3 linked regions of the Homo sapiens genome follow. The protein of the gene in region 3 purifies or fractionates together with the protein of the main gene of each other region. This does not show direct contact. Each region holds a gene or a part of one and is shown on either strand. Other genes may lie near its edges.

Region 1 (3,659 bases), on a different chromosome or scaffold from region 3:
AATGAGAGCAGAAAAACTCAAGTTTTGTCAATTACTGTAGAAGTTCCTGCTTTAAGCAACACTGGCCTCAGCAACAGCACTAAAAATCACACTTAAGTTAACTTTAGAATTAAAAAGATTCTAAATTTTATAGATTAGATAGTAGATATGTTTCATTTTATACAAACTCTTGACTTAAAAAGTCTAGTGGCAGATTTTTTAGTATTTTGTTTTCTCAACTAAACCAATTCCTCTACTTTTCAACAAGGATTAGTAAAAACACAAAGTCAACCAATAAAATCTAACTGCCCCTTTCCCCAGTAATTGGTGGTTTCAACTTAAGAGGAAAGTAATTGAGCATTGTTTACAGCGTGTTTGAAATGGGGGATATGAGGCTGGGCGCGGTGGCTCACGCCTGTAATCCCAGCACTTTGGGAGGCTGAGGCGGGCGGATCCCGAGGTCAGGAGATTGAGACTGTCCTGGCTAACACGGTGAAACCCTGTCTCTACTAAAAATACAAAAAATTAGCCGCGTGTGGTTGCAGGCGCCTGTAGTCCCAGCTACTTGGGAGGCTGAGGCAGGAGAATGGCGTGAACCCGGAAGGCAGAGCTTGCAGTGAGCCGAGATCGCGCCACTGCACTTCAGCCTGGGCAACAGAGCGAGACTCCATCTCAAAAAAAAAAAAGAAAAGAAATGGGGGTATGAATTCATTTTTATACTCTAAATAATGCCCTAGCACTTGGGTAGTTTTGCTGCTCCAGCTTATCAATATCTCTAAGATATCATTTTATATTGCCTTACATTTTCCTAGCTATTACATCATCACTATAGCTTTCTTTCAAAATATATTTCTTTTTCTTTTTTGAGATGGAGTCTCACTCTGTTGCCCAGGCTGGAGTGCAGTGGCACAATCCTGGCTCACCTCTGCCTCCGCCTCCCGGGTTCAAGCAATTACCTGCCTCAGCCTCCCCAGTATAGCTGGGACTAGAGGCACCTGCCACCACACCCCGCTAATTTTTGTATTTTTAGTAGAGACGGGCTTTCACCATCTTGGCCAGGCTGCTCTTGAACTGACCTCGTGGTCCACCTGCCTCAGCCTCCCAAAGTGCTGGGATTATAGGTGTGAGCCACCGTACCCGGCATCAAAATATATTTCTATTATAAAATCAGTGACTACAGTAAGATTCTAAGAATGGACCTAACAAAAGTAATGCATACTCATTACAGAAAAACTAAATGTCAAAAAATATATAAATCACCCATAATCCCACCTACACAGATAATTCTTAATATCTTGAACTCAATTTTCAGTTCTTTTAGGACAGAATTTCTTTTACTATTACCAGTATACTACTGTGGTTACAATACGCAACTACTGAGGTGAATATGAAAACAGGGAGATGAAAATTACTTACACAATATATGGATTCTTAAATTTTTAACTTTTAAAATTTAAGTTCAGTTAAAATAACGTGGGTTTAACTTAGATATAGTTGATACCTTAAATCCTGTACAGAATTAGCACTTTTTCTTTTTTCTGAGACAGGGTCTCGCTCTATCACCCAGGCTGGAGTGCAGTGGTGAGATCTCGGCTCAATGCAACCTGCGCCTCCCAGGCTCAAGCGATAATCCTCCTGCCTCACCCTCTTGAGTAGCTAGGACTATAGGCGCGTGCCACCATGCCGGCTAGTTTTTTAATTTTTTGTAGAGATGGGGTTTCACCCTGTTACCCAGGCTGGTCTTAACCCCTGGGCTCAAGCGATCTGCCCCGCCTCAGCCTCCCAAAGTGCTGGGATTACAGGCATGAGCCACCGCGCCTGGCCAGCACATATTTTTAAAACAACTAAATACAGCCAGGCATGGTGGCTCACGCCTGTAATCCTGGCACTTTGGGAGGTCGAGGAAGGCAGATCACGATGTCAGGAGTTTGAGACCAGGCCGGCCAATATGTTGAAACCCCGTCTTTACTAAAAATACAAAAAAAATTAGCTGGGCGTGGTGGCACGCGCCTGTAGTCCTAGCTACTTGGGAGGCTGAGGCAGAAGAATCGCTTAAACCCGGCAGGTGAAGGTCGCAGTGAGCCAAGATCACGCCACTGCACTCCAGCCTGGGTGACAGAGGGAGACTCCGTCTCAAAACAAACAAACAAGCAAAAAAAACCTAAATACTTGCCTGGTGCTCCTGGAAAAATTTTTCCTAAAAAAAAAAATCAGCTGGGCATGGTGGCTAATGCCTGTAATCCCAGCACTTTAGGAGGTCAAGACGGGCGGATCACCTGAGGTTGGGAGTTCGAGACCAGCCTGACCAACATGGAGAAACCCCATCTCTACTAAAAATACAAAATTAGCCAGGCTTGGCGGCACATGCCTGTAATCCCAACTACTCAGGAGGCTGAGGCAGGAGAATTGCTTGAACCCCGGAGGCAGAGGTTGCAGTGAGCCGAGACTGCGCCATTGCACTCTAGCCTGGGCAACAAGAGTGAAACTCTGTCTCAAAAAAATAAAAATAAAAATAAAAATCACTAAAGCTTTAAGATGCCATCATGGAAAAAAATAATATACAATTAATATTAAAATAATACCATGTAAGTGGTTAATCCTTAAACCTGGTCTTCTGTATTTCAAATCTTCCTATCACTGTTTTTTCTTTATTTATCAATTTCATGATTATATTACGGTAAATTGCAACTCCATCTATTAAAAGCACTGAGTGCCTGGCAGGAAACAACTCTGGGTAACTACAGTACAGAGTATGCCAATGGACACCGAGGGCAGAAATTCCTCATTATCTACCCCATTATCTCTCCCAACACCAATCCCAGATTTTTTATTGGGGGGTGGGAGGAGTTCTATTTTAGCCTACACATATCATGATCCTTTTACCTCTCCAAGAAATCTCCTGACTCCAACTATTCCCCCTCCTCCACTTCACAGGCACTATCAGTACTCAAATCTCCTAGACTAACAATGACTTCTTTTAAAGGGAAATACATGTGAAAAGTCAAAGAAAATAACTGTAGCCAATGAATGTCAAAGTCATTTTCTAGGTTCCTCACAAACCTTAGGATTTCCTAAAGCCAAATGCTTCTCATTAAGGAACTTAAGCTAGCTCTTCCTCTGTTAAGTACTTCTAAATACATGCCCATACAGACTGTATTCTCCCAAAAGAAAAGGAATCTCTACCTGTGCATAGTTAATTGTTTGGCCTCCAAAGACATGTTTATTAATCTCAAGTAGGTAGAGACTCTGAAAACTTTTCTTAGAATTTTCTAGTGTCATCTAGGCAATCACTTTTTATGAGGGTCCAGTGCAAAAAATAATCAAAAACTTTCCTTATCTGTACATAACAAGACAATGTAATACGAAACCACAACACTAATGTTTTAGCAAATTACACACTTATATTAAGATTGAAAACGGCTACATACTTTTTTTTTTGAGACGGAATCTTGCTCTGTCACCCAGGCTGGAGTGCAGTGATGCCATCTCGGCTCACTGCAACCTCTGCCTCCTGGGTTCAAGCAATTCTCCTGCCTCAGCCTCCTGAGTAGTTGGGACTGCAGGTATGCGCCACCACATCTGGCTAATTTTTATATTTTTAGTAGAGACGGGGTTTCACCATGTTGGCCAAACTGGTCTCGAACTCCTGACCTCAGGTGATCCACCCGCCTCGGCCTCCC
Region 2 (3,659 bases), on a different chromosome or scaffold from region 3:
GAGCATGGACTATATGGCAATCAGTGAAGGGACTTGCTTGATTGTAGTAGAGATTTTATGTTGGGGAGGAGCACTGCAAGTGATAGATGCAGACCATCTTTTGAATGCTTTGAAGAACTATTTAAGTCTGTCTAAAAGTCCTTTGGATACACTGTTCTGGAGAGGGTTTGGGGCTTTGGGGTCATACTGCCTTGGTTTGATCTCATCTCTACTCTAATTTGTTTAAGTTTAGAATTTTATAGTAAGTTTTCTCAGTGACACAACTCTATAGGCAACAAACTGATATTTACAGAGTGGTTGGGGTCAGTAACCCTTGTATCAGTTAAGCAATGTACACATGAAGTGCCAGTAGGAAGTCCAAGGAAAGGTTGGGAGAAATAAAAGGAGGTTAGTAAAGGAAAGAGAAATAAATACATTCTGTGATAGTTGGTAGAATGTCATCAGAAATGTCTTCAAGCAAAACAATACATTTGCCTGTCTTTTGTTTCTAGTTGCGTTTAATGGTAGTGTGTTTTCCTTGTCTAAATATGAGAAAGAGAAACTAAACTGCAGCTACTTGACGTGGGCATCTGAGAGCTACCAATGGTTGGCTTAGGTTATGTTCTACATTTGAAGCATCTGGTCAGTTTTAGATTGTCTTCTATATTTGAAGCATCTGGCTAGACCACTTGTGTCCCAGTTTTCTATTTTACCTAAACTCAACTTGGTCAGAAGCTTATGTAGTAAGTATTGTTTGTAACCTGTGTTAGTACTCTCTTAACATGGCTTAAAGCATGAATGGATTGTCAAATGAATACCTGTTATGACCTGTATTTTTTCTTGTTACCTTTGGATTTAATGTAAGTATAATAATGCTCTAAGAACATTTGACAGTATTGTTCAGGCACTTTTTTTTTTTTTTTTTTGAGACAGGGTCTGGCTTTATTGCCTAGGCTGGAGTGCAGTGGCACGATCACAGCTCACTGCAGCCTCAACCTCCTGGGCTCAAGCAATCCTCCTACTTCAGCATTCCAAGTAGATAGGACCACAGGCATGTGCCACCATGCCTGGCTAATTTTTAAAATTTTTTTTTTGTAGAGACGGGATCTTACTTTGTTGCCCAGGCTGGTCTTGAACTCCTGGGTTCAAGTGATTCTCCTGCCTCAGCCTCCCCAAAGTGCTAGGAGTACACAGGCATGAGCCATCATGCATAGCTGCTTATTCAGGTGCTTTTAAGAAATTTTTTCCACCAGAAAAGTAGAAATGATCATACCAGACTACCTTTGTCTCCTCCCAATCTTTTATTATGGTGATGTCCAACCTTGTTATAAGGAGGAGCTTCTTTTAATCTCAGAGTCATGAGATCAGGGCAGATACTGACAGTATAGTTCCTGAGAAGTAGTTGCTGGCTGTGCTGTTCTTCCTTTCCCAATGGGAATCTTAGCTGAGACATGTAGCAGAGAGAAGACATTATGGGGAGCCAGCATGGAGCTTTATAGGAGGTGAGGTGTCTAGATCTACCAGTAGATCCCGATTTGCAGGTTTGAGACTCCTACCTTATTTCATCCATGGCTGTTGCATTGTACAAATCTAGTGGGCAGCAGCCACAGTCTGTAAAAATTATGACATGGAATTACACAATGTGGCAGCCCTGGAAACTACCCAAACCACTTCTATTTCTAGTCCTGTATTCCCTTCAATACCTACTACATCCAGCAGCCGTGATAGTCCCAACACGTTTATCATTTGACTCTCTTTGCCTCCCACTTGAAGGCTCCCCTTTAATCCAACAGATAAAAATTACATCTTTGTCTAAGGATTTCAAGGTGTTGCATAAATTTTCTTATTCTATTTAAGTATACTCATCAAGAAAATGATAATAACTGCCTCGTCTAATTCATAGGTTTTTATCAGTATCAAGTGGAATAATGTATGCAAAAACTTCATAAATTAAAGAATACTACACAAATATAATATTCTTTTCAGATATATTATGTTGTGGAAAGAATACTGAATTCCAATCAGATGTCTGGCATCTCAGTTCTTTCTGCTATTAACAAACTGTGACTTTGGACAAATTACTTTGTGCTCTGGGGACTTTGTTTCCTTACCTATAAGAGGAAACTTATAATGCCACTCCTATCTACCCAGACACCTAAGAGCTACTTTTTCCTCACCTCCACATTCAGTCACCAAATTTGTTGTCTAGTTCTTAAAATTTCTTAAGTTGGTCCTGCCCTCTCTATCTCCATTCAGTTCCTAATCACTTCCCTTTTGGGCAGCAGCCTGTTAAAAAAAATTGTGGTAAAATATGCATAATATAATATTGACTATTTTAACCTTTTTTTTTGAGACGAAGTCTCACTCTGTCACCCAGGATGCAGTGCAATGGTGTGATCTCTGCTCACTGCAGCCTCCGCCTCCCAGGCTCAAGCAATTCTCCTGCCTCAGCCCCCTGAGTAGCTAAGATTACAGGCACACGCCACCCCTGGCTAATTTTTGTATTTTTAGTGGAGACGGGGTTTCACCATGTTGGCCAGGCTGGTGTCAAGCTCCTGACCTCAAATGATCCACCCGCCTTGGCCTCCCAAAGTGCTGGGATTACAGGCGTGAGCCACTGTGTCCGGCCCCATTTTAACCATTTTTAAAGGTACAAGTCAGTGGCATTGAGTGCATTCTCAGTGTTGTACAATCATCACTGTTATGCATTTCCAGATTTTTTTCATCATCCCAAACTGAAACTCTGTACCCATTAAATAATAGCTTCTCATTCTGCCTTCTCTCACCCCCTGGTAACCTCATTCTACTTTCTGTCTCTATGAATTTACCTATTCTAGGTACTTTTTGAAAAATAATTTCAACATTTATTTTTGATTCAGAGGGTACATTTGCAGGTTTGTTACCTGGCTATATTGCATGATGCTGAGGTTGGGGTACAATTGATCCTGGCAATCAGGTACAGAGCAGAGTGCACAATAGTTTTTCAACCCTTGCCCCACTCCCTCCCCACCCAGTAGTCCGCAGTATCTATTGTTGCCATCTTTATGTCTATGAGTACCCATTTTTTTTTTTTTTGAGACGGAATCTCGCTCTGTCGCCCAGGCTGGAGTGCAGTGGTGTGATCTCGGCTCACTGCAAGCTCTGCCTCTCGGGTTCATGCCATTCTCCTGTCTCAGCCTCCCGAGTAGCTGGGACTACAGGTGCCCGCCACCACGCCTGGCTAATTTTTTTTGTATTTTTAGTAGAGACTGGGTTTCAACATGTTAGCCAGGATGGTCTTGATCTCCTGACCTCGTGATCCGCCCACCTCGGCCTCCCAAAGTGCTGGGATTACAGGCGTGAGCCACCGCGCCCGGCTGAGTACCCATTGTTTAGCTACCACTTATAAGTGAGAACGTGTGGTATTTGGTTTTCTGGTCTGCGTTAGTTTGCTTAGGATAATGGCCTCCAGCTGATTCCATGTTGCTGCAAAGGACATGATTTTGGTCTTTTTTTAATGGCTGCATAGTATTCCATGGTGTATATGTACCACATTTTCTTTATCCAATCCACCATTGATGGGCACCTAGGTTGATTCTATGTCTTTATTATTGTGAATAGTGCTGCATTAAACATAGAAGTGCATGTCTCTTTTTGGTAGGACAATTTATTTTCTTTTGGATATATACTCAGTAATGGGA
Region 3 (3,659 bases):
TATTAAAATAAATAATTAAAATAAATAAAATAAATATGTATTTTTATATATTAAAATAAATAAATAAAATAAATAAAATACATATTTTATATATTAAAACAAATAAAATACATTTATTTTATATAAAAGAAATATTCATCCTTATTAGTTTCACACACAGCTACATAAATAAACAGGCCCTTTTATTTAGAGAAAGTTATTATTATTAACACTCCTATCACTGTCACAACAAAGATTTCATCACTCTTTCCATGAATAAGTAGATGATTTTTGTCTTTTTCCTTAGCCATTAAAATTTCTATAGAGCTAACTATTGGCAGAGGTTTAAATGCTCTTGGCAATGATATAAAGTGGGGCCAAACTCATGAAGTCAGGGTAGTTTGCTTTTTCTTTCTGAGCAGAAAGGATCTATAATTTGGTTTTCTTTTTGCTTATATTTGTTTATTTTCTGATAGTTGAGTGCTCAGTTAGTTATGAAAATAATAAATATTTTCTAATATCTCACGCTATAATTATATATTATTAATATTAGATGAATATTGAATTTATATCACTTTTTCAATAAAAATATAAAAGACATATTACAAATTCCTGCTGTTCAATTATGATCTACCATTAGTTGCAAAAAAAAGTAAAAAAGAGCATCCACATGGTAAATATTCCCCAAACCAGACTGAATTAACTTAGAATGTTTTATTAGAATCACACAAGATATTTTTTTCTTTTTCATAATTTCTTCTTACCCCCCTCACAATCACACTGATAAATATGTTGATACTACCATACACAGTGCAGCAAGGACTGTGATACCAGTGCCAACACTTTTGAACTAAAAAGAAAATGACTGGTGTTCAAGTGTTCTGCGTTCAGCATTCAATGTTACACCAACTTCTTAAAATTTTTTCTTATAAAGAGTTTTATTATAATAAACTTTTATTTTTACAACAGAGATTTTATAATGTACTTAATTGCATAGTGCACTATAGCTGGAGTCTATTTTCTTACATTAATAAACAAATTTATTTATAATTTTATTTATAATTTTAAATTAAGTTTATAAATGTAGGTTGTGGTCATTTTCTGGATGGTGGCAGCAGCAGCAAGCCCTACTTTTCCAGTTGGAAAATGCGTAAGCTTTCTGAGAAGAGCATGAGACTATTTTTTTAAAAAATCAGAATATTTACAATGGAGATTAGAATAATAAGTAGTAAACCAAGTATCATTGTGACTTAAGAGTTCATGTAGCCAATCAAAATGAATTAGCTTTGAAACCAAACTCTACACTTGAACTTTGGGTACTTGAGATTATTTAATCACCCCTGGCCTCAGTCTTCTTACTTAAATAATGAGACCAGTTATGAGTTTTATAGAAGTAATGATTCTAATAATAAAAGCCTCAAATTTAGCAATAATTTAGAATGTAGCACCTCATTTCTACCACAATCCATGCTTTGGGATAAATTGGGAAAAGACGACCTCTCCTGGTGAGAGATGGCAGAAAGGTCCCTCTTATAGACTGTTCAACTAGAAAAAGTTGATTTTGCCTCTAGGTAGCTTGAGCTACAGGCACTGGGCTTGCCAAGCTGAGCTCCTTCTCCTGTCTCTTTGGCTTGTACCTCGACACAGTGCACAATCTGCATAACTGTGTTTGAACCTTTTTAATATTCCTAGCAATCCTATGACATAGGTGCTCTTATCTGTTTTCAAAATGAGGCAAAGAGGGCAGTTCACACAGCTCACAAGTGCTGAAGCTGGGTTGTGAAACCAGGCCATCTGGCTCTACACTCCATGCTTTTACCAGGTTTCTATGCTGTCTCCATATGTCTCAAACCTAATATAAAGGTGAAATATTTCATGAACAAAAGGGATTGATGAACACAAACACTGTGCATGTTATCTATGTCAGAATCATAAGCATTAATCTGTTATTGATTATTGGGTGGCTAATATAAGCAAGGCTTGTGCATTGAGAGCTTGTTTCTAAACAGAATTAGATTTTCTGTTACAAATATTTAAATAAGAATTAATGTTGCCTCTGTCTCAGATTTTCAAACCATATATGCCTTTAATAAATTTTTATCTAGTCTTTTTATTTTCCAAATAAAACAAACTAGATCCAAATTGAATGCATTCCACATTACAAAGAGTATAACTTTAGCCAAGTTGTCATCCTGTGTTATATCATGAGGAATATGTTAAAATAGTAAAAGAAACACTCTCATCCTAGAGTCGCACACATCCATCTACTTGTATATGAATTCCTGACACAGAAAGTTGTTGTAAATAGTAAAAATTGTTTGTGAGTGCATCTTCTGAATTTTAACCTTGGACTCCTTTATATATATATATATTATTATATATGTATTTTATTATATATATATTATTATATATATATATTTTATTATATATATATTATATATAGTAAATTATATATAATATATATAATATTATATATATTAATATTATGTATAATATATATTATATATAAATACATATATGTATAATATATATTTACATATATGTATATATTACATATATATGTATACATAATATATATGTATACATATATATGTATTATACATATATATGTATTATATTATAGGTACAATACATATATATACACATATACAATGTATATATACATACATATACAATATACATACATATATAATATACATACATATATACACACATATACATATATACACACATATATTATATATAACATATATACATATATATTATACATATATATTATATACATATATATGTATATATTATATACATATATATGTATATAATATATACATATATGTATTATACATATATATGTATATAATATATACATATATGTATTATATATATTATATATGTATTATACATATATTTTATATATATATATAAAATACATTACCTTTTATAAAGGTAATGTAACAGATACTGCCATCTTTGGGAAAGAGTTATAAAACAAAACCATAAAATGATGACAAACAGCAGTTGAAGAATAATGGCTATGATAAATGGTTAGTTCATTAAATGACTGGTAATAAGATTAATTTGTTCCTTTCATGCCCGAGAGATACTTAAAGTAATTGCATCTCTGAAAACTGCACTGTCATCATTTTATGCTTTTGATGATGTCATAGATTAGTTCCATAGGCTGAGAAAGGCTCAGCAGTTTTTCTTGTATCTCCCTTGGTATATATTATATCATATTGTATTAATGTATGTGCTACTGTTCACCACCCATGAATTTGCAATATTCTATGGTATCCACAGGATAAGAAGAGAGGCCTCTAAATCACCCAGTCTCCTAAATAAAACATGTGCCAGTTTTAATAAAGTTAAACTGATATATATTAAAGTGTCCTGGAGAAATCTGGAAGCACCATGAAATATTCCTAATGTCATTTTGCAGCAAAAATAGGTTGGGGATCACTGCTATGCACACTAGAAAGAAAAAAGGAAAAAAAAAAAAGAAACACATTACTTCAAAACACTTCAAATGTTTAAAAGTATCACTTGCTCTTCAAACATATCCTCCCAACTTAGAGACCTGAATTTGGAATCCTTCATATTTATCCTTATGCCTACAAGTAAAATCCTTTTACCTTTGTCCTAAAGAAGACATCACTACTCACCAGTCACTTCACAAAATT

Evidence for each region.
Region 1: the proteins of CHODL (region 3) and HELLS purify together in Homo sapiens (affinity purification with mass spectrometry; one large-scale study listed by BioGRID and IntAct). This does not show direct contact.
Region 2: the proteins of CHODL (region 3) and ATP7A purify together in Homo sapiens (affinity purification with mass spectrometry; one large-scale study listed by BioGRID and IntAct). This does not show direct contact.

The regions. Positions count from the first base shown.
Region 1 is NC_000010.11:94,548,752-94,552,410, reverse strand, and holds part of HELLS (lymphoid-specific helicase), read right to left. Parts: intron 1-3,659. UniProt on the Homo sapiens protein: Plays an essential role in normal development and survival. Involved in regulation of the expansion or survival of lymphoid cells. Required for de novo or maintenance DNA methylation. May control silencing of the imprinted CDKN1C gene through DNA methylation.
Region 2 is NC_000023.11:77,917,180-77,920,838, forward strand, and holds part of ATP7A (copper-transporting ATPase 1), read left to right. Parts: intron 1-3,659. UniProt on the Homo sapiens protein: ATP-driven copper (Cu(+)) ion pump that plays an important role in intracellular copper ion homeostasis.
Region 3 is NC_000021.9:18,247,829-18,251,487, reverse strand, and holds part of CHODL (chondrolectin isoform a precursor), read right to left. Parts: intron 1-3,659. UniProt on the Homo sapiens protein: May play a role in the development of the nervous system such as in neurite outgrowth and elongation. May be involved in motor axon growth and guidance.